7 linked regions of the Homo sapiens genome follow. The protein of the gene in region 1 purifies or fractionates together with the protein of each later gene. This does not show direct contact. Each region holds a gene or a part of one and is shown in the gene's direction. Other genes may lie near its edges.

Region 1 (3,500 bases):
GATTTATTCTTTGTCTAAAAAGTATAAAAGCATCTCATTTCGGCCGCTTCATCAGACATCACTGTGTTAAGATCCCAATGACAAGGAAAATTAATAAGATCCGTAGGCTTTTCTCCTGCTGATGTGATTGTCTGGTGTTGATTTTAGTTTCTAGGTCCAGCTGAACAGCCCACATAAGAGGCAGGCATGGGGCAGGGGCTTAATGGATTAATGGGTTAATGGACTGATGGGTTATGGGCATGGCACTAGTGGCTTTATAAGAAGAGGGAATGGGCCAGGCCAGGCACGGTGGCTCATGCCTGTAATCCCAGCACTTTGGGAGGCCAGGGCGGGTGGATCACGAGGTCAGGAGATCGAGACCATCCTGGCTAACACGGTGAAACCCTGTCTTTACTAAAAATTCAAAAATGTGGCGGGCGTCTGTAGTCCCAGCTACTCAGGAGGCTAGGGCAGGAGAATGGCGTGAACCCAGGAGGCGGAGCTTGCAGTGAGCCGAGATCGTGCCACTGCACTCCAGCCTGGGCGACAGAGAGAGACTCTGTCTCAAAAAAAAAAAAAAAAAAAAAAAAAAAGGAATGAGGGCTGAGTCAGAGCTCATCCTTGCTATACAATGCCCTATGCCACCTCTGAAGACAGTCCCCATTGGCAAGAAGGCCCTCACCAGTGTGGGCACTCAATCTTGGACTTCTCAGCCTTCATAACTGTAGGAAGTAAGTTTCTTTTCTTTATGAGATGCCCAGTTTCAGGTATTCTGTTGTAAGCAACAAAAAATGGACTAAGATACTGTGGTTATCCAGGAAACTTGCTGGGTGACTCCTTCCCCAGCAGAGGAGGTCCCATCAGTCTGTAGCCCCTGGGTCAGAGGGTGTGACTCAGTGATTCAGTATCACCTCCACATGTTCCCACTGCCAGGGTCATGGGACCTCTCAGAAAGGGCTTGCAGAGAAGCTGAAAGGAACATGGCTCTTAGAGACCTATCTCTCAGGACAGGGCAGGCAACCCGGGGTGACAGAAGCAGTGTCACCCTGTTGGCGCAAAGGGAATGGCGCTCTTGTCCTCAGTCCACGAAAACTAGCTGTGTGATTCTAGGTATTGGTTGATGCCCTGGCTCTTGGTTTTCCCCATTTGGAAATGTGTGCACAGCTAGCTGCTTTCTTTAGATGTCGTAGGAGTGAGATGGACAGGGCATGGGAGGTGTGTTTGTATTTTTCAAAGTGCTCTGTGCTTCTAGTCAACACACGCACTGTGGGTGAGCTCCGTGCACCAGCTCTGTGAGCGATTTGAAAGGAGGATAAGTGGCGGATTTGTCTGCAGGGGTCTTGAATCCCTGGAGCACAGTCATGTGTAGGCTTAGGACAGGAAAGCTTTGGGCTATCCCTTCCAGAACCTTCTTTCAGCTCCTAAGGAAAATCTTAGGTGGTAAAGCCAGGCGCTGTCTGTCTGTTGGTGGGGGAGGGGGCAGCATTTTCCTAATCCACTCTGTGGCTTCCATCCTTTCCCACCTTCAGGGGTTTATGGCTTCCTGACTTTTGGGACAGAAGTTTCTGCTGACGTCTTGATGTCCTACCCAGGCAATGATATGGTCATCATTGTGGCCCGGGTCCTTTTTGCTGTCTCCATCGTAACTGTCTACCCCATCGTGCTCTTCCTGGGGAGGTGAGGCCTGGCTCAGTGGGGGGCACCGTGAAGCATGGTCTGCTGATGTGTGCTGTGATTGAGCATGTACCAGGTGTGGGCTACGCGGCTGTGGGACTACCATCCTCTCCAATTGTAGACAGGAGGAAACAGGCACAGAGGATTTAGGTAGATTGCCCAAAGTCACTCCGTGAGTGTGTGTCCACAGCCAGGACTGGAATGCGAACCACGTGCTTCATCCCCTGCCCCATGGGCTGCCCGATGGTGGCAGAACCCCTGAGGGTTGGCAAGGTCTCCTGGGGAATAAACACCTGAGTGTGGAACAGGAGCACTGACAGGTGTGAGGGGACTCCTGGAGGACTGGGGAGCAGCTGTCGGGTGGAGGCTGGTGCCCCTGAGATGCCCATGTGTCTGTGTTGGCTGTGGCCTCCAGGTCAGTGATGCAGGACTTCTGGAGGAGGAGCTGCTTGGGGGGATGGGGGCCCAGCGCCCTGGCCGACCCCTCAGGGCTGTGGGTCCGGATGCCGCTGACCATCCTGTGGGTCACCGTGACGCTCGCCATGGCGCTGTTTATGCCTGACCTCAGCGAGATCGTCAGCATCATCGGAGGCATCAGTTCCTTCTTCATCTTCATCTTCCCAGGTGAGGCCCCTGCTTTCCAGGCTTTCTGCCCACTTGTTCTTCCCTGCTCATCTCTGTGGGGACTCCCAGTGTTGGAGGTCAAGGTTCTGGAAGGTGGGAGCCACATATGGGTAGGATTAAGACCCCATGTAGGTGCCCTTTTTATTGAGCCAGGCACAGGCTTGGGCTTTACATACCTTCCCTCACTCATTAAACATCTCATTAGCTCCTGATGAGGTTTGGTTGTGTTCACACCCAAATCTCACCTTGAACTGTAATAATTACCATCTGTGAAGGGCAGGGCAAGGTGGAGATAGTTGAATCATGGGGATGGTTCCACCCATTCTGTTCTTGTGGTAGTGAATAAGTCTCATGAGATCTGATGGTTTTATAAGTGGGGGTCCCCCCCCGCCCCCCAGCACAAGCTCTCTTGCCTGCCTGCCACCATGTAAGACGTGACTTTGCTCCTTATTTGCCTTTTGCCATGATTGTGAGGCCTCCTCAGCCATGTGGAACTGTGAGTCCATTAAACCTCTTTTCTTTATAAATTACCTAGCCTCTGGCTGGGCACAGTGGCTCACGCCTGTAATCCCAGCACTTTGGGAGGCCGAGGCAGGCGGATCACCTGAGGTCAGGAGGTCGAGACCAGCCTACTAAAAATACAAAATTAGCCATCCATGGTGGTGTATGCCTGTAATCACAGCTACTCAGGAGGCTTAGGCAGGAGAATCACTTGAACCCGGGAGGCGGAGGTTGCAGGGAGCCAAGATTGCGCCACTGCACTCTAGCCTGGGCGACAAGAGTGAAACTCCATCTCAAACAAAACAAACCATTACCTAGTCCCTGGTAGGTCTTTATTAGCAGCATGAGAGCAGACTAATACAGCTCCTGATGGACATTCTTGACGTAGGAACGTTTATGATCCCATTCCATAGATGCGAAGACCGAGGCCCTGAACCCCCGCCGGGGGCACAGCTAGTATGCAGCAGGGCTGAGGGTCAATCATACAGCTCTGTCCATGCTACCGCTGGTGCCTCCTGCTAAAAGATTTTGTTTTATTAAAAAAAGAAAATCGTATATGTGAAAGTCACGTGGCTCAAGGCACCCTGCAAATGTCTCCCTTCCCTCCTGCCTCCAGGCCCTGGAGGCAAACACCGTTTCTGCGAAGGATGGTTTCTTAGGAAACCTTCCCAAACAGCCCAAGCATTATCTGAGAAGGGGAAGCCAGCAAGGTGGGGGCTGGA
Region 2 (3,500 bases), on another chromosome or scaffold:
GGACTACAGTTGTATGCCACCATCCCTGGCTGTTAAAAATTTTTTTTGGTGCAGTGGGTTTTTCCCTATGTTGCCAAGGCTGGTCTCAAACTCCTGGGCTCAACCAGTCCTTTCACCTTGGCCTCCCAGAATGCTGGGATTATAGGTGGGAGCCACTGTGCCTGACCTTTCTTGTACATTTGTGAATTTGAAAGAGTTATATGCCAGCTTCTAAGGCATTTCTTAAAGATGAATTTTTAAATCCTGGTTTCTTTTAAGTCTTTTTGGAATAGCTATACATTAGCCAAAGTAAATTTTTTGATACAAGTTTACCTCTAAAGGAAGAGGACATTCGAATAGGGTTTTATAGCTATTTCAGTATAGGGTTTTATGATTTTCTCTTAAGGAATTTCAGAGTATGTGTCATTGTTTCAAGATTTTCTATTTACTACTTTAAAAATGGAAATAATAGGTCTTTGGTACCTTCTTGAAGGTCATATGCCACAAAGAATGCAAAAATACATGAAAGTCCTTAGTATTTGTTGTTATGGTCATTTTTTAGAGCTAATTTTATTTTTAATCATTAGCGGTTGCTTCGTTTGGAGTTCTGTTTTTATAACAATGATAGATAATATCTGCATCATATTATTGATGTAAAAAAAATCTACCTTTGAAATGAATTAGGGATGTACCATACTTTTGAATGTTTGTCATCAAACAACATTTAGCATAAACTGCATCTAGTGGCCATTGCTCTGTAATATGTAAAGACTTGTCGGTACTTTGTCCTGCTAATTAATTTGAGGATTTAGATTGTAAGCTCTGTGAGGGCAGAAAGTAATATTTTTCTCATTTTTGTAATCTTTTCTATTATTGTCTGCATAGCATAGTACTTTACACTGTATCAGAAATTGAGTATTTTGGTTTAGGCTTCTATGGTAATAGAGGTTAAGAAAGGAAATTTGGTAGACCTTTAACATTTGCTGGATTTTGACATTTTTGATTTTTGACTGAAGTCTTCAAGTTCTGTTACATGACACAAGAATGTGAAATGATTTTTTCTTTTTTTGGGAAAAGCTGGTTTTTTGTGTGCTTTATATAATTTAAAGAAAAGACTTGTTATGAAATAGTTTCAGTCATTTTCTGAATTATTGTTGAAATTAGTACAGGGTAGATTCACATGGTCAGAAAGTGTCACTTAAAGTTTTCACCTTTAGCTTATGTGGTTGATATTTATCTAATTAGAAATTAAGACCCAGAAATTTAAAAAATTCAAGCACATATTCCATTAGCTGCCAGAGCAATGTCACCACACATCCTGTAGCTTCTAGAAAACCATGTAACATATACTCATGAGGGAATGAGAGCAAGGGGAAAAGGCAAAATGTGAAACATAAGGATATATAATGTCTTAGTATAATAATGAAATAATTTTGACTTCATGTATTCCCTGAAGAGTCCACACTGTGATAACTGCTGCTTTATATTGTTATGATTACTCACAGACAGAAGCTATGTGGAAGAGAAGCAAAAAAGTAAAGGAGTAGAATAGACAGCGGAGCATGTTTTAAAATGTAAAATATAGAGTACCTGTAAAATGTAGTAGTATTTTCTTCTTATAGTAGTATTTACAGCCCTGAGAGAGAAGATTGAATTAATTACAACTTGAACACTTGACCATTTCTACTGCTGTATTTTTTGTGAAAAACGAAAATTCAAATGTTTGTTTTATTATTTCCCACTATTTTTTTTTTTTTTTGTATATGGCTTAATATGTGCCACACTTAGGTAGTATGGTAAAGATGTAAAGGTACCTAGGCTTTGGATCTAAACAGACCTATACTCAAATCTCAGTTCTTGTTAGGGCTTGTACCTTGGGCAAGTTACTAATCTTTTTTCTCACCATTAAAATGAGAATTGTGTTTAGAAGTTTGTTATGAGGACTAACTATTTATGTAAAATTCTAGATACAATGCATTTGTCCAACCCCAAGTTCACAAAAGTCTGGTCATCCCCTTTTTGTAATTATAATTTGACTCTCATGTGCTTTTATTCAAATGAGAGAGAAACATAACTTTTCATCATAGCAACAAACTTAAAATAATGTCTTTTACTTATTATTGCTTGGAATCATCAATTATTTATGCTTTTTTCCTAGTCAAAGTAAACAAGTATGGAGATACTTGGGATGAGTGAAAAATTACATCATTGGACATGAAGGAGTTTCAACATCCAGCTTCATCTAGGTGGTCATGATTACCTGCATGCTTTGAGCTCAGCAGCAGTCTTCATAAACACATTTAAAACAAGATCCTGGGTTTTTGTGGTTTGACTTCTATGGTGTTTTAAAAAAACACAGATTTTTAGTGTTAATATTGTGTAAATGTACTCACCTTAGGGATTCATTTGAATGATGGTATTATACCATGATTGTATACAGTTTGTGAAATTGTTGCAAGGGCAAAGATAACTCTTAAAAAACCGTCGAGATTACAATGCTCTAGAATCAGCATATAAGAAAATAAATGATATCTGCATGTTGAATTGGGGTGGATGGGGGGAGCAAGCATAATTTTTAAGTGTGAAGCTTTGCATCAAGAAATTATTAAAAAGCTTTTTTTCTCCAGTATTTTCTGTATTATCTTAATGTTTATGGCAAATAAAATGTAAAGGAACATGCAACAGCCCTCATCTTCCTTGATTTTATGGTTTTATTGTTTGTAATTTATTGATTTATTTTTAAGCTAGTTATAATCATGTAGGTATAGGAAATAAAGTCATCTATAATATTTCTATAATATGGCTATAATATGGCTATAAATCTATAATATGGCTGGAGGCAGTGGGCAGTGGTTCATGCCTGTAATCCCAGCACTTTGGGAGGCCGAAGTGGGAGGATTGCATGAGTCCAGGAGTTTGAGACCAGCCTGGGCAACAAAGCGAGACCCTGTCTTTACAAAAAAATAAAAATTAGCTGGCGATGGTGTCGTGTGCCTGTAGTCCTAGTTACTTAAGAGGCTGAGTTGGGAGGATCAGTTGAACCCAGTGGTTCTGGGTTGCAGTGAGCTGTGGTCACACCACTGAACTCCAGCCTGTGCGACTGAGTGAGACCCTGTGTCTAAAAAAATAAAAATATAATGAATGTGATTTATGTAGATAAATTGATAATATAGTAAATAGGTAAATGCCTTAAAAAGCATTTTTAAAGAATTTGTAAATTCTAAAACAATAAAAATTTGGTATACATCACAGAGACTGATATTATGTTAAAAAGAAAAATTGGTGTACAGTGACCCTTCGTATCTGTGGGTTCCGTATCTGCAGATTCAATCAACTGCAGATTGAAAATATTTGAGGGAGAGAAATGGATGGTTGTCTGTACTGAACTCTTGTTATTCCCAAACAATACATTGTAATAACTATTTACATAGCATTTACATTAGGCATTACAAGTAATCTATAAATGACTTAAAGTATATAGGAGGATGTGCATTGGTTATATGTAAATACTACACCATTTT
Region 3 (3,500 bases), on another chromosome or scaffold:
GTGTGGCTGAGAAGAAAACGAGTGACAAAATTGCTGCCTTGGTTCCTGGGGCTAATTAGAAAGGAGTGAGGGGATGGTGGGAAAAGTTTTGCCAAGCCATGGATAGAGCCTAGAAGAGAGGAAAGGGAAGATAGTTGAAGACTCACTAAGCTAGGCGTGGTGGCTCACGCCTGTAATCCCAACACTTTGGGAGGCCGAGGCGGGCGGATCACAAGGTCAGGAGTTCAAGACCAGTCTGGCCAACATGGTGAAACCCGTCTCTACTAAAAATACAAAAAAATTAGCTGGGCATGGTGGCGCGTGCCTGTTATTCCAGCTACTCAGGAGGCTGAGGGAGGAGAATTGCCTGAACCCAGACCCAGGACCCAGGAGGTGGAGGTTGCAGTGAGCCGAGATCGTGCCACTGCATTCCAGCCTGAGCTACAGAGCGAGACTCGTCTCAACAACAACAACAACAACAACAAAAACAAAGTACTCACTAGTCAGGCTGACTTTAGAAAAAGCTTTACTTTACCCACACTAATTTAGACATAGAAATAGAGCTGTTTGGCCAGGCACAGTGAGTCACGCCTGTAATCCCAGCGCTTTGGAAGGCTGAGATGGGAAAATTGCTGAAGCCAGGAGTTCAATAACAGCATGGGCAACAGAGTGAGACCCCTGGGCTACAAAAATCAATTTTTTTTTGTTTTAAATTAGCTGAATATGGTGGTGTACACCTGTAGGCTGAGCTACTTTGGAGACTGAGGTGGGAGGATTGCTTGAGCCCAGGAGTTGGAGGTTGCAGTGAGTCATGGGCCATGATCATGCCACTGCACTCCAGCCGGGGCAACAGAGTGAGGCTCTGTCTCATGTTTTTGGGTTTTTTTTTTTTTCTTTAAGAAAGGTGTGTCTCACTGGAAAAAAAAAAAAAGCTTTGAGACCCTATAAAGTTTGATTCAGTATTTTTAAAATGTTGTGGTGGCTAACTGCAATTACATATGGTATGTGAGGGTATGGAAATGCCATTGTATTCTGAAATAGAGCACTACTTTGCTCTTTTTGCATTGATTTCCTAGGTCAAAAGAATAACATCTTTTTGCAACAGTAATTGAAAGCAATAGATTCTTTTCTGTGTTTAGGTTTTGTTTTGTTCTTACTAGGATGTACCTTTGATTTGGATTTGCATTCCTTTCCCTGTCACTAGCAGAACTTTACAAAATATACTCTGCTATCTATTAATACTAGTTTCGGCTCCCAGATGCTTTATCATATAGAAACAGCATTGTAGAAGAGCAGCTAGCTTCACGCCCCTTTCTAATCAATTAACTATAATCTAGCTGTGAATATTGCCCTTGAAAAGTGGATGACCCTTTGGGGCAAAGAAAATTGAAGACGTGTAAGTTCCCAATTTTGTCAATAAGGAAAGTACTAAAGGCACTCAAAGTAGAAACTGTACGTGCTCTGAGAAAAATGTGTTTGGTTTTGCTTGTATAGAGAAATTTAAATTTTTTAATAGAATTAAACAAAGCAAGAGCAAGAGTTGAAAAGTGGAATGCTGACCATTCAAAGAGTGATCGAATGACTCGAGGACTCCGAGCCCAAGTAGATGACCTGACTGAAGCTGTGGCTGCAAAGGATTCCCAGCTGGCTGTACTGAAAGTGAGACTCCAGGAAGCTGACCAGCTACTGAGTACTCGCACAGAAGCATTAGAAGCCTTACAGAGTGAAAAATCACGGTAGGTGATTCTATGAATAATGAAAAAAATGAGCAAGTAATGGTAAACATTGTAGTGTATCCACTTATGAAACTTAGCTTTCTTGGAAATTTACAAGAGGGAATATTTCTTTTGGTAGTGTTAGAAATGTGTATGATTAAAATGGATTCATTGGCTGGGCGTGGTGGCTCAAGCCTGTAATCCTAGCACTTTGGGAAGCCGAGGCAGGTGGATCACCTGAGGTTGGGAGTTCGAGACCAGCCTGACCAACATGGAGAAACCCCGTCTCTACTAAAAATACAGAAAAAAAATTAGCCGGGGGTGGTGGCACATGCCTGTAATCCCAGCTACTCAGGAGGCGAGGCAGCAGAATCACTTGAACCCAGGAGGTGGAGGTTGCAGTGAGCTGAGATTGTGCCATTGCACTCCAGCCTGGGCAAAAAGAGCGAAACTCCATCTCAACAACAACAACATAAAATGGATTCATTGTTTGAACCTTGAGATGCATTGTTAGCAAATTCTGAATTTAAAAGCATTTGTTGTGTCATTAATCTTTCATTATACGGTATGTACTTAATATTTGGATGCCTAAAAATGTAGATTATGTTCCATTAGAAAGGAAAGATTTATCTAAGAATATTTCAGTCAAATTATCTTTTTTGTGCTTGACTAAAGCTGACGCTCTAAAAATTATTCTGCCTTATCACTTGTACACTGTAGACATGAGTTATTTCACATGATGCATTTTCCTTTAGAATAATGCAGGATCAAAGTGAAGGTAACAGCCTGCAGAATCAAGCTCTGCAGACTTTTCAGGAGAGACTGCATGAAGCGGATGCCACTCTGAAGAGAGAGCAGGAGAGCTATAAACAGATGCAGGTTAGAATGAGAGACAGCAGATTCCTATTGTTACTTGGACACGGAAAAAATGACTTTATGCTGTTTCATAGCACATTAACTGTCTAATATAATTCTGCAATGCATTTCAGAAAATTCTGTTTCTGTGACAAAAATCAGATATTTGAAAATTTAGCTTGATCCTTGCTAAATGTATTTAATTTTATGTGTTGAGAGACAATTAAAATAGTTAATGTGCATTAGAGATATACATCTTTTACTTAATTTTTGCAACAATCATTGTCATTATTTGATTAAATGCTAATGGTTGGGGGATCGTATTTGTTTTTTATTAATTTAAGTTTTTCTGATTCCAGATTAATCTGGCTCATTTATTTCAGGAGAAAATTGTATGTAATATGTAAAGAGTTTTACTCTTAGATGAATATTTGCATTTAGTTCAGTCCCAGCCCTGTCTACACGTGGGAATCACTTGTGTGATACCTTGTGCTGTCTGAGCTCCATATGCAGTCACATTCCATTGTATGAGGTAGGGACTAGGTATTGACACTTTGGTTTTAGAAGGTTCACAGGTGTATCTAATGAGCAGTCAGGGTTGCAAACCACTGGTCTGGGCTAGCTTTTCAACAGGTGAAAGTAATTCAGTCCTGAAAGTAAATATCAGGTAGTGTGTGTCTCTTAATTTTAACACAATATATCCAAAGTATTAATTATTTCAATATGTAGTCAATATTAAAAGTTATTAATGAGATATTTTACATTATTTTTTGAATACTGGTTCTTTAAAATATGGTGTAATTTACACCTATTTATTTACTTATTAAATTGGAAACAGTTGATCAGCTAGTATCAGACCAGACCTAGTATCCAAGTGACCAGGTTCACCTGGGAAATTTCTTAAAAAACAGATTCCCAGACCCATCTTGAAAATTCCAGTTTAGTAAGCTT
Region 4 (4,213 bases), on another chromosome or scaffold:
GAAATCCCATCTCTACTAAAAATAAAAAATTAGTCGGGCATGGTGGCGCATGCCTGCAGTCCCAGCTTCTCGGGAGGCTGAGGTGGGATAATCGCTTGAATCCGGGAGGCAGAGGTTGAGGTGAGCCGAGATCGCGCCATTGCACTCCAGTCTGAGCAACAAGAGTGAAACTCCGTCTCAAAAAAAAAAAAAGTGTAGTCACTGACCAGCTGGAGCTGACAATAGAGGCGGAGATTTCAGACACATGAATGGATACTTACAGTACAGTGCGTGAGTGCTCTGGTAGGGAAGTAAGGGATTCTGGTTCCAGGGGCATCTACTACAGACTTAGGGGTTTGAGAAAGGCTTCTTAAAGTGCCTTGGGAAGGAGGAGTAAAGGAGGAAAAGGAAGGTGAGGAGGTCCAGTGTTGGAATAAGCAGAAGTATTCTAGCCAGAGGGATCAGGGAGTGATATAGGCCTAGAAGGGAGAACTTGGGAGTGTTCAGGAAACCAACGGCGGTAAGGATGGAGATGAGAAAAAACAGACATTTGAGAGTTGAAGAGCCATATTCTAGAGTTTGGGTTGTGTGCTAAAGGCAATTGAGAACCTTTCAAGGCAAGTGCAGCAAATTGTTTCCTACAGCTTTCTGTGGCTGTAGGGTAGAGATGGATTGTAGCCAATTAGAATGAAGACTGTAGAGACGGTCTTTGCCATAGGCCAACAAAGTGATGAACTGAGTAGGACTGTGGCCGCTGCTTCCCACCCTCACCAGAAGAAGGGCTAATCCACACTTGTTATTGAATTGATTGAATTGCGGGGGGGGGGGGGCCTACAATTCCCAGCGGTCTGGTCTGCGGGCGGGGGTGGGGGTGGGGGTAATGTAATTCGAGAAGCCAGAGAACCTAGGAGGGAAAAATCGGCTGGAGATGCCAAGAGAAGGCATGCGTTAAATTGTGGTCATGCGGAGCTAAGTGTCTTTGAGACATTAAATCGGACACGTCCTGTAGGTTATACAGGCGCCAAGGAAGAAAATCTGCATAAGAACACAGTTTTTTCTTTGCGGGAGTTTAACTCTCTCGGCCAGAAACAGTCCTGTCCTGCATTTCTTAAGTTTTTTCCGAATCCCACAAGCCCTTCGAAGGCCCCGCGGACTCGTGCCAGCGCGCCCGCGCATGCTCAGTAGCAAGACGTGCTAGGCAATGAGGAGGGAGATGAGTTTTCCGTAACCTGAAGCAACATCCTCCTGATTCCTCATTAAAGAAAAAGGCGGGAACTAGTCAAAAGCCGGGGACTGATGGGACGCTAGGATCTGCGCGTCCCGCCCATTTCGGCCTCTGACTGGTGAATGTCTTCGGCTTATGGCAGAGGAGCCCGCCTCATTGGCTCTCAGGCTCCAGAGCAGCAGGTCTCCGGCGCCCACCCCGCCTCCCCCAGCTGCCGACGTGGGGCGGGCAGCCGCCGGCGGCTGGGAGCCGAGGCGTCGGTGCAGACCTGGAGACGGGCATGGGGGGGCTGCGGCTGCTGGCTGTGGCCCTCACGTGCTGCTGGTGGCCGCAGGGCAGCCAGGGTAAGACCCTGCGGGGCAGCTTCAGCAGCACCGCGGCCCAGGACGCCCAGGGCCAGCGCATCGGCCACTTCGAGTTCCATGGTAGGTCTGGGGGCGGGGAGGGGGATGAAGGCGCGCTGGCCCATCCCGCCGGCTGAGTCCGCCGGCCGCTCCTCCCGGCCCCTCCCTGCCACGTTGGGCGAGGCCGGCGACTTCCCCAGCCTCACCTGGACCTCCAGCGTTGCAGCAGCTGCCGCGAATGGTGGGATGCGTTCCTTGCCAACCCCGCTGGTGCGGCTTTCCAGCCCCAGGCAGCGGCCTCTCGCCACTAGTGATCGTGTTCCGCACCTGAAAGCTGGTTTCCATTTCCCCAACCCTCCCCTTGGAAGCCAATGTGCAAAAGACTGGTCGGCCGCATCTTTCCAGATCCTTCCCGCAAAGAAGCATATTTGCTCCTTCCTGTCTCGGCCACACTGTGACGGGAGAATTTAACCCTAGAAACTTAAATTTCCTTTTTTTTTTTTTTTTTTTTAAAGACCAATTTCCTGAGACCTACTTGCAACAGAGTGGTTTTGGAAACCAAGTAAAACACTTGATAATGTAGTTGTTATATTGAGCAGTTTGGTTACTTGGCTACTAGGGCAGTAGATTTACTATGGGCAGTAAGGCCTAGAATTAAGCTGATGAAAATGCATTTAAGTAGCATCTTGGAAGCTCCCTAATTTGTGTTCTGTGTGGCTCTTCTGAAATCAGAGTTGCGTTTGATTTCAGACCTTTTGGTCTTCCTCAAAAATCAGTAATTATTCCTTCAATAAATGCATTTGCAATTCATTCTAATTTTGGTCTCATTTGCACTCTCACAATTTAAGTGTTTTTCTTGGTACTCTTAATTTGACTAGTGCTGTATTTCAAATAATTATTTGCCTTGATGACATTAGGAACTTTGATTTGTACAGTCTTTAGCATTAAAAGATGCAACGATGAACATCAGAATATTGGCCTAGAAAATATTGTTAGGAGAAGATAATAGAAACGGAACTACTTTGGTGAGAAAAGGAATTTAAAGTATTGGGAAATTACAGAATTGACAGAATAAAGGGAAGGGATCCTGATTTTTTTTTTTTTTGAAGTTTTTAAGATAGCTAAGAAAAGGAGTTTCAGTAACCCAGTTTTTCAAAATCCAATGTGGAATATATTTTGGGTGAATGAAGAAGAAACACTAGAAACAATTTTATTATTTTTTGTAACATTTTGAGTTTCTCATTCAACGGACTGTAACCATACTTTGAGTATTGACAGCCACTGTCTTAAATGGCACAATGTGGACAGTGTTGGAAAATGTGGGATGTATAGAAGACGTGGGTTATTACTTAGGACCAGCAGAGAGACTTGGACGACCTCATAGTTCCTGATGATCATCTGGTAAACGTGGAGGAGAAACATGTACTAAATTCAGATTTCTCAAGACAGATTGGGGATAAGGTGTTTCAAGTGCGTTCATTCTGTTTCATATGTGTAAAATCACATATAGTTATTACCAATTTTCATGAATCCCAATTCAGTAAAATAATAATACAAAAACTATACTGAAACAATGAACTGTAACTCGGAATGCAATTTACAGTGTCAATTGGGCCTCAGAGTCACTTGTAAGACTTCAAAATATGTAATCAATTTATGTAAGAGACTTGCACATTCTTTGATATATATACTGTATATTTAAATATATTTAAAATGTTTAATCAAAGTGGTAATTATAGTAATAAAAGCATAGAAAAAAAATTTCCAGGAGAATAGAAGATCTTAAAATGAAAAACAGTCTCCTGTCTTAGCTCTTTCACCCAGAATCCCTTTCCCTAGAGGCAATAACTTACTGCCATTTCTGTTCTGGGCCTTAAATGTAGTTGGTGTGTGCAACCAGGTTCATTCTGTATTCATCTTACAACATATATTATTCTGAAAGTTCTTTTTTTTTAAAAAGGAAGCCAGACTCGTTGGGTGGCTCCTGCCTGTAATCCCACCACTTTGGGAGGCAGAGGTGGGCAGATCACTTGAGGTCAGGAGTTCAATACCAACCTGGTGGCTGGGCGTGGTGGCTCACACCTGTAATCCCAGCACTTTGGGAGGCTGAGGTGGGTGGATCACCTGAGGTCAGGAGTTAAAGACCAGCCTAGCCATCATGGTGAAACCCCGTCTCTATAAAAATATAAAAATTAGCCAGGCATGATGGCAGGTGCCTGTAATCCCAGCTATTTTGGGAGGGTGAGGCAGGAGAATCGCTTGAACCGGGGAGGCGGAGGTTGCAGTTAGCTGAGATCGTGCCATTGCACTCCAGCCTGGGCAATAGGGCGAGAATATGTCTCAAAAATAAATTAAAAAAAAAAAAAAAGACCAACCTGGCCAACATGGTGAAACGCTGTCTCTACTAAAAATACAAAAATTAGCTGGATGTGGTGATGCTGGGTGTGGAGGCGCATGCCTGTAATCCCAGCTACTCCTACTCAGGAAGCTGAGGCAGGAGAATCAGGAGAATCGCTTGAACCTGGGAGGTGGAGGTTGCAGTGAGCCGAGATTGCGCCACTGCACTCCAGCCTGAGTGACAGAGTAACACTCTGTCTCAAAAAAAAAAGAGTTTTGCTCTGTCACCCAGACTGGAGTGCAGTGGTGTAATCAAAGCTGACTGCAG
Region 5 (3,500 bases), on another chromosome or scaffold:
ATAGGTGCCTGACACAATAGGTGCTTCGTAAATATTTATTATTATTATTATTATTTTAGAGACAGGGTCTTGCTCTGTTGCCCCGGCTGGAATACAGTGGGATGATCATGGCTCACTGCCATCTCCAACTCCTGGGCTCAAACGATCCTCCCACCTCCGCCTACAGAGTAGCTGGGACTATAGGTACACAGCACCAAATTTTCTGTAGAGACGGGGGTCTTGCTTTGTAGCCCACACTAGTGTTGAACTCCTGGCCTCAAGTGATCCTCCTGCCTTGATGGGATTACAGGTGTGAGCCACCACACCCAGCCTAAATGTTTATTTCATTGGTCAGTGTCAGAACTAGGATTGGAATTTAGATTGTTAATCTCTTGCCACAAGATAGGAAAATGGAGCAAGATGAGGAGAAAAAAGCATTTAATGGGAGAGAACACCCTTGTCTGAGGTCAGGGACCTGGGAAGCAAGCACGACTTTGCCACTGTCACTGTGTGTTACTTGGACAGTGCCTTATTTTCCCATCTGTGAAATAAAAGAGCTGGATAAGAACCTTAGTTTTGAGATCCTGTCTCCCTTAAAAGCTGAAGACAAAGGTAACTGATCCAAGGGCAGACAAGGGATGGTACCATCATCTCCAGCTTGGACTCCCACTGCTGACAAAATTTGTCCCTTCAAAGTTGAGATAGCTACCATGGGGAAGAGCACTTAGTTCTATACTGAATGGCTCCAGGCATTTTCATGAAAGCTCTTTCAGCTTTGGGGAAGAATATTCATCCATATCTTTACCCCATCATATTAGTGTCTAAGCCCTGCAATCAGGCATGTCAGCCACGTGATGGAATGGGAGGGCTGCAGGGCAGCACTGTCCAGTAGAAACGAAATGCAAGCCACATATGTCATTTTAAGTTTTCTTTTTTTGAGATGGAGTTTCACTCCATCACCCAGGCTGGAGTGCAGTGGCACGATCTCGCCTCACTGCAACCTCCGCCTCCCAGGTTCATGTGATTCTCCTGCCTCAGCCTCCTGAGTAGCTGGGATTACAGGCATATGCCACCATGCCTGGCTAATTTTTGTATTTTTAGTAGAGATGGGGTTTCACCATGTTGATCAGGCTGGTCTGGAACTACTGACCTCAGGCCACCCGCCTTGGCCTCCCAAAGTGCTGGGATTACAGGCATGAGCCACCGCGCCCAGCTAATTTTTGTATTTTTATTTTATTTATTTATTTATTTTTTGGGAGACGGAGTCTTGCTCTGTCACCCAGGCTGGAGTGCAGTTGTGCGATCTTGGCTCACTGCAACCTCAGCCTCCCAAGTAGCTGGGATTACAGGCATGCACCATCATGCCCAGCTAATTTTTGTATTTTTAGTAGAGATGGGGTTTCACTGTGTTGGCCAGGCTGGTCTTGAACTCCTGACCTCAGGTGATCCACCGGCCTCAGCCTCCCAAAGTGCTGGGATTATAGGCGTGAGCCACTGCACCCGTCCTAATTTTTGTATTTTTAGTAGAGATGGGGTTTCACCATGTTGGCTAAGCTGGTCTGGAACTCATGGCCTCAAGTTATCTGCCCACCTCAGCCTCCCAAAGTGCTGAGTAAGCCAAGTTTTCTAATAGCCACATTAGACAAGTAAAAGGAAACAGGTTAAATTCATTTTAACATGTTTTACTTAACCCAATGTATCCAAAATAGCATTTCAACATGTCATCGGTTTTTTAGTTTTTTTTTTTTTTGAGATAGTGCTTCGCTTTGTTGCCCAGGCTGGAGTGCAGTGGCACAATCTCGGCTCACTGCAACCTCCACCTTCCAGGTTCAAGTGATTCTCCTGCCTCAGCCTCCCGAGTAGCTGGGATTACAGGCACCCGCCACCATGCCCACTAATTTTTGTATTTTTGGTTAGAGATGGGGTTTCGCCATGTTGGCCAGGCTAGTCTCAAACTCCTGACCTCAGGTGATCCACCCACCTCGGCCTCCCAAAGTGCTAGGATTACAGGCGTGAGGCACCGTGCCTGGCGTCATCGGTATTATTTAAATGAATTATGTTACGTTCTTTTGTGCTGTCTTCAAAATCTGTTATATATTTTACACTTACACCAAATCTCAATTACCATGGTACATTTTTATCTGAAATGCTTGACCTTTATTTTGATTTCATAAAATTCATAGTTGGAGAAGTAGATTCACATATCCAAGTTGTTCCAATTATATAATAGTTTTCCAAAAACTGAGATGGGTGTCCATTTTTTTTTTAAGTAAAGATGCAGGTCTGGTTATGTTGACCAAGTTGCTGGGTTGTTTTGTTTTGTTTTGAGACAGAGTCTCACTTTGTCACCCAGGCTGGAGTGCAGTGGCATGACCTCAGCTCACTGCAACCTCTGCCTCCCAGGTTCAACTGATTCTCTTGCATCATCCTCCTGAGTAGCTGGGACTACAGGTGTATGCCACCATGCCTGGCTAATTTTGGTATTTTTCTCAGAGACGGGGTTTCACCATGTTGGGCATGCTGGTCTTGAACTGCTGACCTCAGGTGATCCGCCCACCTCGGCCTCCCAAAGTGCTGGTATTACAGGCATGGGCCACCACACCTGGCCTCAGCTGTTCAATTAAAAGTAAATACAACTTAAAATTCTATGTTTCATTGGCAGTAGTGCAACATTAATACTGAGTAGCCACATGTGATTAGTGGCTATGGTATTGGACAGGGAAGGTACAGAATACTTCCATCAACATAGAAAATTCTATCAGTCTAGCTCTAGGGGCAGATAGTCCTTCCACTGACTTGGGCAAGTCACTCTACAAATGGCATCTACCTCACATGGTTATGGTGAGAATTCAGCGTATGTATGTACATGCAGGCACACAATATGCACACAGACACATAACATAGTACACCCTTTCCTGAAAAGCCTGACACATGGAGCTCAAACATGAGTGCCACCCACCCCTGGGCAGCACCAAGATGGCTCTAGTCTGGGTGCCTTTGTCTCACCCCCATGCCTTTGCTCGGAGTGTGCTCCTCATTTTTCTGCCACTTTGACCCTGTCTCTGATTTGGTCCTGTCTGACATCACTGCTATATGCTTTGCTCCTCTCAATTTCCTCTGCCCTCATGCCAGCAGGAGTCATGCCAGAGATCATATCTGAGAAAGCAAGACAATTTTGTGTGTGTGTCTGTGCCCATAGAGGAGTGCTGGTTGTGTTGATATAGTTGTAGATTGGTTGTGTTTACACAGTTGTATATATTGACACCCTTGAGTGTTATGACTTCTTTTGGGGGTGGTCGCCTTTTAAATCATAACTTTTAATGGGATTCCATTTTAGTCTTTGTGAAGACATAAGGTTGTTGGCAGGCATCTGTCCCTGGGAGCATCCAAGCAGAAAAGACTAAGACTCCCTTGTAGACAGATCACTGGCCGCCACTGAAGTGTGTCTGCATGGCACCACAGGGCTGGAAGACCCTTGAAGGCAGGAATTCAAGGAAATGTATGATGAATTTTGGCATTGC
Region 6 (3,500 bases), about 17 Mb from region 1:
CTGGCTCCCATTTATCCCTGAAGTCATGCATATACAAGCGCATAATGGTAGATGAAGCAGTGGGTTTCTCTATGTTGGATTCTCAGATCCACCATTCTGTGGCTCCTTGTAAAACAGTCCCATTTTCCTTTAGGAAGATTGTTATCTTTAGGAGTTGTCTTCCTGATCAAGGACTTGGAGTCAAATAAATTCTGGCAGAAAAGCAAAGTTATAATTACTCTTAAGTTTTTTTGATGATTAAAAATAGTGAAATTATAATCCACGATCTCAAAAGAAGTTGTTAAATGTAGAGCGTACATGTGTTTTACAAAACCACACAAAGACAGTTCAAGAAAATGATACTACAGACCAATATTCCTTATATGAACACAGACACAGAAATCCTCAACAAAATACCATATAGAAAATAAAACCCAGCATAATGGAGAAAGAATAATACACCAAACCAATTTGATTTATCCCAGGAACAAAAAGGTTGGTGCAGTTTTTGAAAGTAAATGTTATAGGTGTACACCATATTAATAACTTAAAATAACAGGCCAGGCACAGTGGCTTATGTCTGTAGTCCCAGCACTTTGGGAGGCCGAGGCAGGTGGATTGCTTGAGCCCAGGAGTTCAAGACCAGCCTGGGCAACATGGTGAATCCCCTTCTCTACAAAAAATACAAAAATTAGCATGACATGGTTGTGCATGCCTGTAGTCCCAGCTGTAGGCTAAGGTGGGAGAATTGCTTGAGCCCAGGAGGTCAAGGCTGCGGTGAGCCGCGATCGTGCCACTACACTCCAGCCTGGGCAACAGAGTGAGACCGTTTCTCAAAAACAAAACAAAACCCAAAGCCACATGATTCTATCATTTGATGCAGAAAAAAAAAACTTTTGACAAAATTCAGTACTTTTCCATAATAAATGCTGTCAGCAAACTTGGAAGAGAAAGGAACTTCTTCAACCTGAAAAAGGGCATCTACAAAAAATCTACAGCTAACATTATACTGTAATATATAATGTTACAGTGGGGAAAGAATGAATGCTTTCCCCCATGATGGGAAACAGGCAATGATGTTTACTGTTACCACTCATATTCAAGATCATACTGGAAGTCCTAGCCGTTGCAAAAAAATTAATAGGAGACGTACAGATCAGAAATAAATAAAACTGTCCCTATTCGCATATGGCATGATTAGGTAGATAATCACATGGGAATCTATAAAAAACCTCCTAGAACTAATAAGTGAGTTAGCAAGGTTACAGGATATAAGGTCAACACACGATAACCAATAGTATTTTTATATCCTAGCAATAAATCATTGGAAATTAAAACAAAAAAACCAATATCAGTTATAACAGCACTCAAAAGAATGAAATTCTTAGATATAAATCTCACAAAACATGTATAGAATCTGCTCACTGAAAACTACAAAACACTGAAGTAAGAAATCAAAGATGACCAAAATAAGTAGACAGGCATTCTGTGTTCATTAGGATTGGAAAACTCAATATAGTTAAAATATTAGTTCTCCACAAATGATCTATAGGTTTAATACGATCCCAAAATCCTAGCAAGGTTTTTTTGTAGATAGAAGAATGCTGATTCTAAACTTTATATTAGCCAGGCAAAGGGCTAGTGATGGTTTATGGAGGTATGTTCCAGGGAGAGAGAACAATGACATGAAGTCACCCTTGTTTAGGGTAGAATGTGTGTGTGTGTGTGTGTGTGTGTTGAGGGGAGTGTTTCTGAGAGTATGATGGACTTCGTATCTCTTATCGGCCATGAGACTTTTGGCAAGCTACTTGTTCACTCAGGCCACAAGCAGATCTCCTGCAGGTCTCTCACTTGGGGATTGTAAGTTGGGGATAATGGTAGTATTACAGTGCTGGTGAGCCCACCATGCTCCCTAGCTCAGCGTCTCAAGACACCACGTCATCAAAGCCTGTTGGAGGTTGCTATGGTCTGAATGTTGGCATTCCCCCAAAATTCAGATGTTGGAACCTAACACCCAGTGTGATAGTATTAAGAGGTGGAGCCTTTTGGGAAGTAATTAAGTCATGAGGGCTCAGCCCTCATGAATGGGATTAGTGCCCTTTTAAAAGAGTTTGAAGGGAGTGTCCTTGCTCATTCTGCCATGTGAGGACACATAGAAAGTGCCGTCTGTGAAGAATGGGCCCTCACTCAGATACTGAATCTGCTGGCACCTGGATCTTGGAGTTTCCAGCCTCCAGAACTATGAGCAATAAATTTCTATTTATAAATTACCCATTTTGGCCAGGCGCGGTGGCTTACACCTGTAATCCCAGCACTCTGGGAGGCCGAGGCGGGCAGATCACAAGGTCAGGAGATCAAGACCATCCTGGCTAACACGGTGAAACCCGGTCTCAATGAAAAATATAAAAAATTAGCCGGGTGTGGTGGCAGGCGCCTGTAGTCCCAGCTACTCAGGAGGCTGAGGCAGGAGAATAGCGTGAACCCAGGAGGCGGAGCTTGCAGTGAGCCAAGATTGCGCCACTGCACTCCAGCCTGGGCGACAGAGCGAGACTCCGTCTCAAAAAAAAAAAAAAAAAAAAAAATTACCCTTTTTACGGTATTTGGTTATAGCAACCAGAACAGACAACAGACTGATAGTGATACAGAATATCTCTGGAATGATACAAGTTGGGGAGCTGGGTGGCCGAGGGCCAGGGTGTCAGGGAGACATTTTCTGCTGTATAACTGTTTGTACCTTTTGTATTTTATTTTATTTTATTTTATTTTTGAGACGGTCTCGCTATGTTGCCTAGGCTGGCCACAAACTCCTGGGCTCAAGCGATCCTCTTGCCTTCAGCTCCCAAAGTCCAAGGTTTACAGGCATGAGCCACTGCTCCCAGCCCTTGAATTTTGTACCACATGCAAGTACCTTCTATTCAAAAATTACTAAAATAGTAGATGTTACTAGCTTTACCTTAGTATAGCCTTAAAGCTCATATACTGACTGTAATCTTTAACTTTTCATGACTTTCTTTGTAATTTGGAGGCCCTTGGGAAGAATGATTTAGATAATACAGACCACTTGGACAAACTTGAAGCTTAAATTGTTTTAAAATGCACTTTTCTGTAAAAAAAAAAAAAAAAAAAGCATTCTGCACAATAGTGGGTGCTTAATAAATTTGTTGATGCTAATGGAAAACTTCTTCCATTTGAAAGGAATTTACCCTCATTTGTTAGTGAAAATGTTGTAACATTAAAGAAAATTAGAAATTAGAAAAATAATCATCGTATTATGACAGACTCAAATGAAAAGGACTTGGAAATTTTTTCCTTTCCAAAGGCTACATATGATCCCCTGTGGCAAAGTCTGGTGATTATGTTTTCTAGTTTTTTTGCTATTAGGAAGATGCGTCAATAAATGTCCTCATGAGTGTAGCCTGGATTCTTCTTTTGAATTATTATTTTTGGTTAAATTTCAAGGAGTGCTTTTACTACATCAAAGGACAAGACCACCACATTTCTGAACATTTAAAAAAAAAATA
Region 7 (3,500 bases), on another chromosome or scaffold:
GTAGTACAGTGGCAGAGGCCTGATTCTAACCCAGGCAGTCTGGCTCAAGAGTCCAAGCTCTTTACCACTACTCTTTCGTCTTCCTTTCTTCCTTTCCCTCCCACCCTCCTTCTTCCTTTCCTTTCTTTTCTCTCTTTCTTTTCCTTCCTTCTTTTCTTTCTTTTTCCTTCCTTCCTTCCTTTTCTTTATTTTTCCTTCTTCCTTCCTCCTTCGTTCCTTGCTTCCTTCTTTCCTTTTCTTTTTCTTTCCTTTCCTTTTTTTTTCTTTCCTTTCTTTTCTTTCTTCTTTAACTTTTTGAGACATTGTCTCACTCTGTCTCCCCAGGCTGAGTGCAGTGGTGCAGTCATGGCTCACTGCAGCCTCAACCTCCCTGGGTCAAGTGATCCTCCAACCTCAGCTTCCTGAGTAGCTGGGTCTACAGTTGCACACCCCACCATGCCTAGCTAATTTTTTCTATTTTTCATAGTGACGAGGTCTCACTTTGTTGCCTGAGTTGGTCTCAAACTCCTGGCCTCAAGCAGTCTTCCCACTTGGCCTCCCAAAGTGCTGAGATTACAGGTGTGAGCCACCACGCCCAGCCTTTTACCACTACTTTAAATTCCATTTAGATCTAATATTGATAGAGTGATAACCATATCAACCAGATTTTTTAAATATGCAAACAATGGTGCCAGTTTCTGTATCTATGTGACAAAAATATATAGAGTTTGTGGTATCACTTTTACCTGTTTAGAGCACTCTTTGGAAAGGCAGGGAAATTACTGTGAAGGTATTGGTATTCCAGAAGTAAGTTCCTGGAGTGTTTGCCTTCTAAGGTGTGAGGACGTGGTTTGTCACACCCAGTTAACTAACAGATAGACGGTGTAGTGAGCTGTCCGGAAGACTTAGCAGGTTAGCCTAGGGAGGAAGGAGAAAGGGGTTCTGGGCACATGGAGGGAGGGGGAGGGAAAAGAGTTTGTTTGAATCTGTCCTAGATTGGGGTAGCTTTTTCGGAGGGAGGCCTTGTCGTGTGGACCTGCTGCATATAAAGACAGGAGAATTGGACCTGAGGTGTGGTGCTAGCTAAAGCGCCACACAGATCTGGGAATTTAAGAGGAGTTCATTTCCTCAATCATTAGGAAGAACTTGAAAGGGTAGCAAACTGTGGTCATTTGAGAAGAACAGCAAGTGGTCATATTTGAATGTAACATATTCAACTGGGTTGGGAAAGAACCAGAATCTAGATCTTGCCCATAGCAAGTGCAAAACCAGGCGTTCTTATAAACCATGTACTCTTGTAAACACTGATAAGACATAGCACTGAGTCCTGAGCTTTTCTTCTATAAAGTTATTGTACAGGTTGAGGATCCCTAATCCGAAAATCCAAAATCTGAAATGCCCCTGTGAGCATTTCCGTTGAGTGTCATTGGCACTCAAAGTTTTGGATTTTGGACCATTTCAGATTTTGAACTTTCAGATTTGGGATGCTCAACCGGTATATAATGCACATATTCCCAAATCTGAAAAAATCCCAAATCCAAAGCATTTCAGCTCCAAAGTGTTTCAGATAAGGAATATTCAACCTGTACTACATTGTACTAGGCTTGTATTAGATTCCCAGTTTTCAAAATTTGTATCTCAGAATCCCTGTTCTCTGTCAATGAAACAGGGATTTCATACACCTTTGATTCACATTTTAATGTTTTAAGTTTAAAATATTATAAATGTTTATACACAGTCAAATGAATCTCATGCTAAATTTTAATATATTAGAGACAACTGATTTGTCTGCCAGGTTATCTCAAGAGAGTTAATACTGAGTGAAAACAAGTGAGAACCCTAAAAGATTACATACTGTATGATTGCATTTATGTAACATTATTGAAATAACAAACCTGCAGAGATGGAGAACAGATTTAGTGGTTGCTAGGAGTTAGGAATGGGAGGTGAGGGGTGGTGTGGTTATAAAGTGGTAGCATGAGGGAGCTGTGTAGGGATGGAACAGTTCAATGTCTCAGGTGTGATTATACAAAGCTGCAAATGTGATAAAAACTTCATACAACCACACACACACATACTGCATATAAATCCTAGCGTACTCAAGTCCCATTTTGCATACAAAACTGGTGAAACCTGAATAAACTCAGGATTGGAGGAATTTGGGCGAGGGTACTTGGGACCTCCCTGTGTACTTTTTTGTAAATTCCTGTGATTTATAATTATAGTAATTTTAAAATAAAAAGTTGGCCAGGCACAGTGGCTCATGCCTGTAATCCCAGCACTTTGGGAGGCTGAGGCGGATGTATCACGTGAGGTCAGGAGTTCAAGACCAGCTTGGCCAACATGGTGAAACCCCATCTCTACTAAAAATACAAAAATTAGCCGGGCATGGTAGTGGGTGCCTGTAGTCTGAGCTACCTGGGAGGCTGAGGCAGGAGAATCACTTGAACCTGGGAGGCAGAGGTTGCAGTGAGCTGAGATCATGCCACTGCACTCCAGCCTGAGCGACAGAGCAAACTCTGTCTCAAGAAAATAAAATAAAATAGACTGGGTGTAGTGGCTCACGCCTGTAACCCCAGCACTTTGGGAGACTGAGGCGGGTGGATCACCTGAGGTCGGGAGTTGGAGACCAGCCTGACCAACATGGTGAAACCCCATCTCTACTAAAAATACAAAATTAGTCGGGCATGGTGGTGCATGCCTGTAATCTCAGCTACTCGGGAGGCTGAGACAGGAGAGTTGCTTGAACCCAGGAGGCAGAGGTTGCAGTGAGCCAAGATCACGCCATTGCACTCCAGCCTGGGCAACAAGAGTGAAACTCCGTCTGAAAAATAAAATAAAATAAAATAAAAAGTAAAAAAGCAAAAAAAAAAAAAAAGTGCATTTAGAATATTTGAGAGAAAATAAGCAAAAGGAAGAAAATGTAAATTATCTATAATGCTTACACCCAGGACAATAATCCTTGGAATAGAGTGTCTCACTTTGTGTATAGAAATGAAACTTTTAAAATGCCATTTTATTTTTTAATTAAAATTTTTTCTTTCCTTTTTTTTCCTCCTCAGAGTTAGAAAGGATAAAAATGTTATTGATTAGTAAGACTGTAGCTTTATGTTGATATTTTGAAATTTTAGGCTAGTGCTTGTTTGTTCATGTAACATATAAGCACATTCAGTACTATTAGAACTGTTGCATTATGCAATAACATGACTGCCTAATGCATATATCAGGATTAGTACATATTGTAAAGTTTTTATTTTTTACCAAAATGTTTACGACTACCAAGTATTCATTCCTTAACACTATTACATAATTAATTTAGAAATGTTTTACTTTTAAAACTTCTGGACAGGTGTAATTAAATCCTTAGATAGCGTTAATGTACTATTTAAAAAACACACACAAAACATTATCATTGGCAAAACATGCTTTATCATCTATTCATCTTTGTGAATCCGGTTTTTCTTGATACCATGCCATCAAAACAAAACAAATTTGACATAAGACTGCCCAATCATCCATAA

The links.
Region 2: the proteins of SLC38A8 (region 1) and OCIAD1 purify together in Homo sapiens (affinity purification with mass spectrometry; one large-scale study listed by BioGRID and IntAct). This does not show direct contact.
Region 3: the proteins of SLC38A8 (region 1) and GOLGA5 purify together in Homo sapiens (affinity purification with mass spectrometry; one large-scale study listed by BioGRID and IntAct). This does not show direct contact.
Region 4: the proteins of SLC38A8 (region 1) and GPR180 purify together in Homo sapiens (affinity purification with mass spectrometry; one large-scale study listed by BioGRID and IntAct). This does not show direct contact.
Region 5: the proteins of SLC38A8 (region 1) and IRGQ purify together in Homo sapiens (affinity purification with mass spectrometry; one large-scale study listed by BioGRID and IntAct). This does not show direct contact.
Region 6: the proteins of SLC38A8 (region 1) and CMTM4 purify together in Homo sapiens (affinity purification with mass spectrometry; one large-scale study listed by BioGRID and IntAct). This does not show direct contact.
Region 7: the proteins of SLC38A8 (region 1) and VKORC1L1 purify together in Homo sapiens (affinity purification with mass spectrometry; one large-scale study listed by BioGRID and IntAct). This does not show direct contact.

Annotation. Positions count from the first base shown.
Region 1 is NC_000016.10:84,015,296-84,018,795, reverse strand, and holds part of SLC38A8 (solute carrier family 38 member 8), read left to right. Parts: intron 1-1,508; coding exon 1,509-1,656; intron 1,657-2,068; coding exon 2,069-2,277; intron 2,278-3,500. UniProt on the Homo sapiens protein: Electrogenic sodium-dependent amino acid transporter with a preference for L-glutamine, L-alanine, L-histidine, L-aspartate and L-arginine. May facilitate glutamine uptake in both excitatory and inhibitory neurons.
Region 2 is NC_000004.12:48,858,588-48,862,087, forward strand, and holds the end of OCIAD1 (OCIA domain-containing protein 1), read left to right. Parts: intron 1-1,569; exon of another isoform or gene 1,570-1,616; intron 1,617-2,137; coding exon 2,138-2,175; 3' UTR 2,176-3,228; downstream 3,229-3,500. UniProt on the Homo sapiens protein: Maintains stem cell potency. Increases STAT3 phosphorylation and controls ERK phosphorylation. May act as a scaffold, increasing STAT3 recruitment onto endosomes. Involved in integrin-mediated cancer cell adhesion and colony formation in ovarian cancer.
Region 3 is NC_000014.9:92,807,805-92,811,304, forward strand, and holds part of GOLGA5 (golgin subfamily A member 5), read left to right. Parts: intron 1-1,495; coding exon 1,496-1,715; intron 1,716-2,449; coding exon 2,450-2,573; intron 2,574-3,500. UniProt on the Homo sapiens protein: Involved in maintaining Golgi structure. Stimulates the formation of Golgi stacks and ribbons. Involved in intra-Golgi retrograde transport.
Region 4 is NC_000013.11:94,600,444-94,604,656, forward strand, and holds the start of GPR180 (integral membrane protein GPR180 precursor), read left to right. Parts: upstream 1-1,413; 5' UTR 1,414-1,484; coding exon 1,485-1,629; intron 1,630-4,213.
Region 5 is NC_000019.10:43,586,135-43,589,634, reverse strand, and holds part of IRGQ (immunity-related GTPase family Q protein), read left to right. Parts: 3' UTR 1-3,500. UniProt on the Homo sapiens protein: Autophagy receptor that specifically promotes clearance of misfolded MHC class I molecules by targeting them to the lysosome for degradation.
Region 6 is NC_000016.10:66,686,744-66,690,243, reverse strand, and holds part of CMTM4 (CKLF-like MARVEL transmembrane domain-containing protein 4), read left to right. Parts: intron 1-3,500. UniProt on the Homo sapiens protein: Acts as a backup for CMTM6 to regulate plasma membrane expression of PD-L1/CD274, an immune inhibitory ligand critical for immune tolerance to self and antitumor immunity. May protect PD-L1/CD274 from being polyubiquitinated and targeted for degradation.
Region 7 is NC_000007.14:65,879,574-65,883,073, forward strand, and holds part of VKORC1L1 (vitamin K epoxide reductase complex subunit 1-like protein 1), read left to right. Parts: intron 1-3,500. UniProt on the Homo sapiens protein: Involved in vitamin K metabolism. Can reduce inactive vitamin K 2,3-epoxide to active vitamin K, and may contribute to vitamin K-mediated protection against oxidative stress.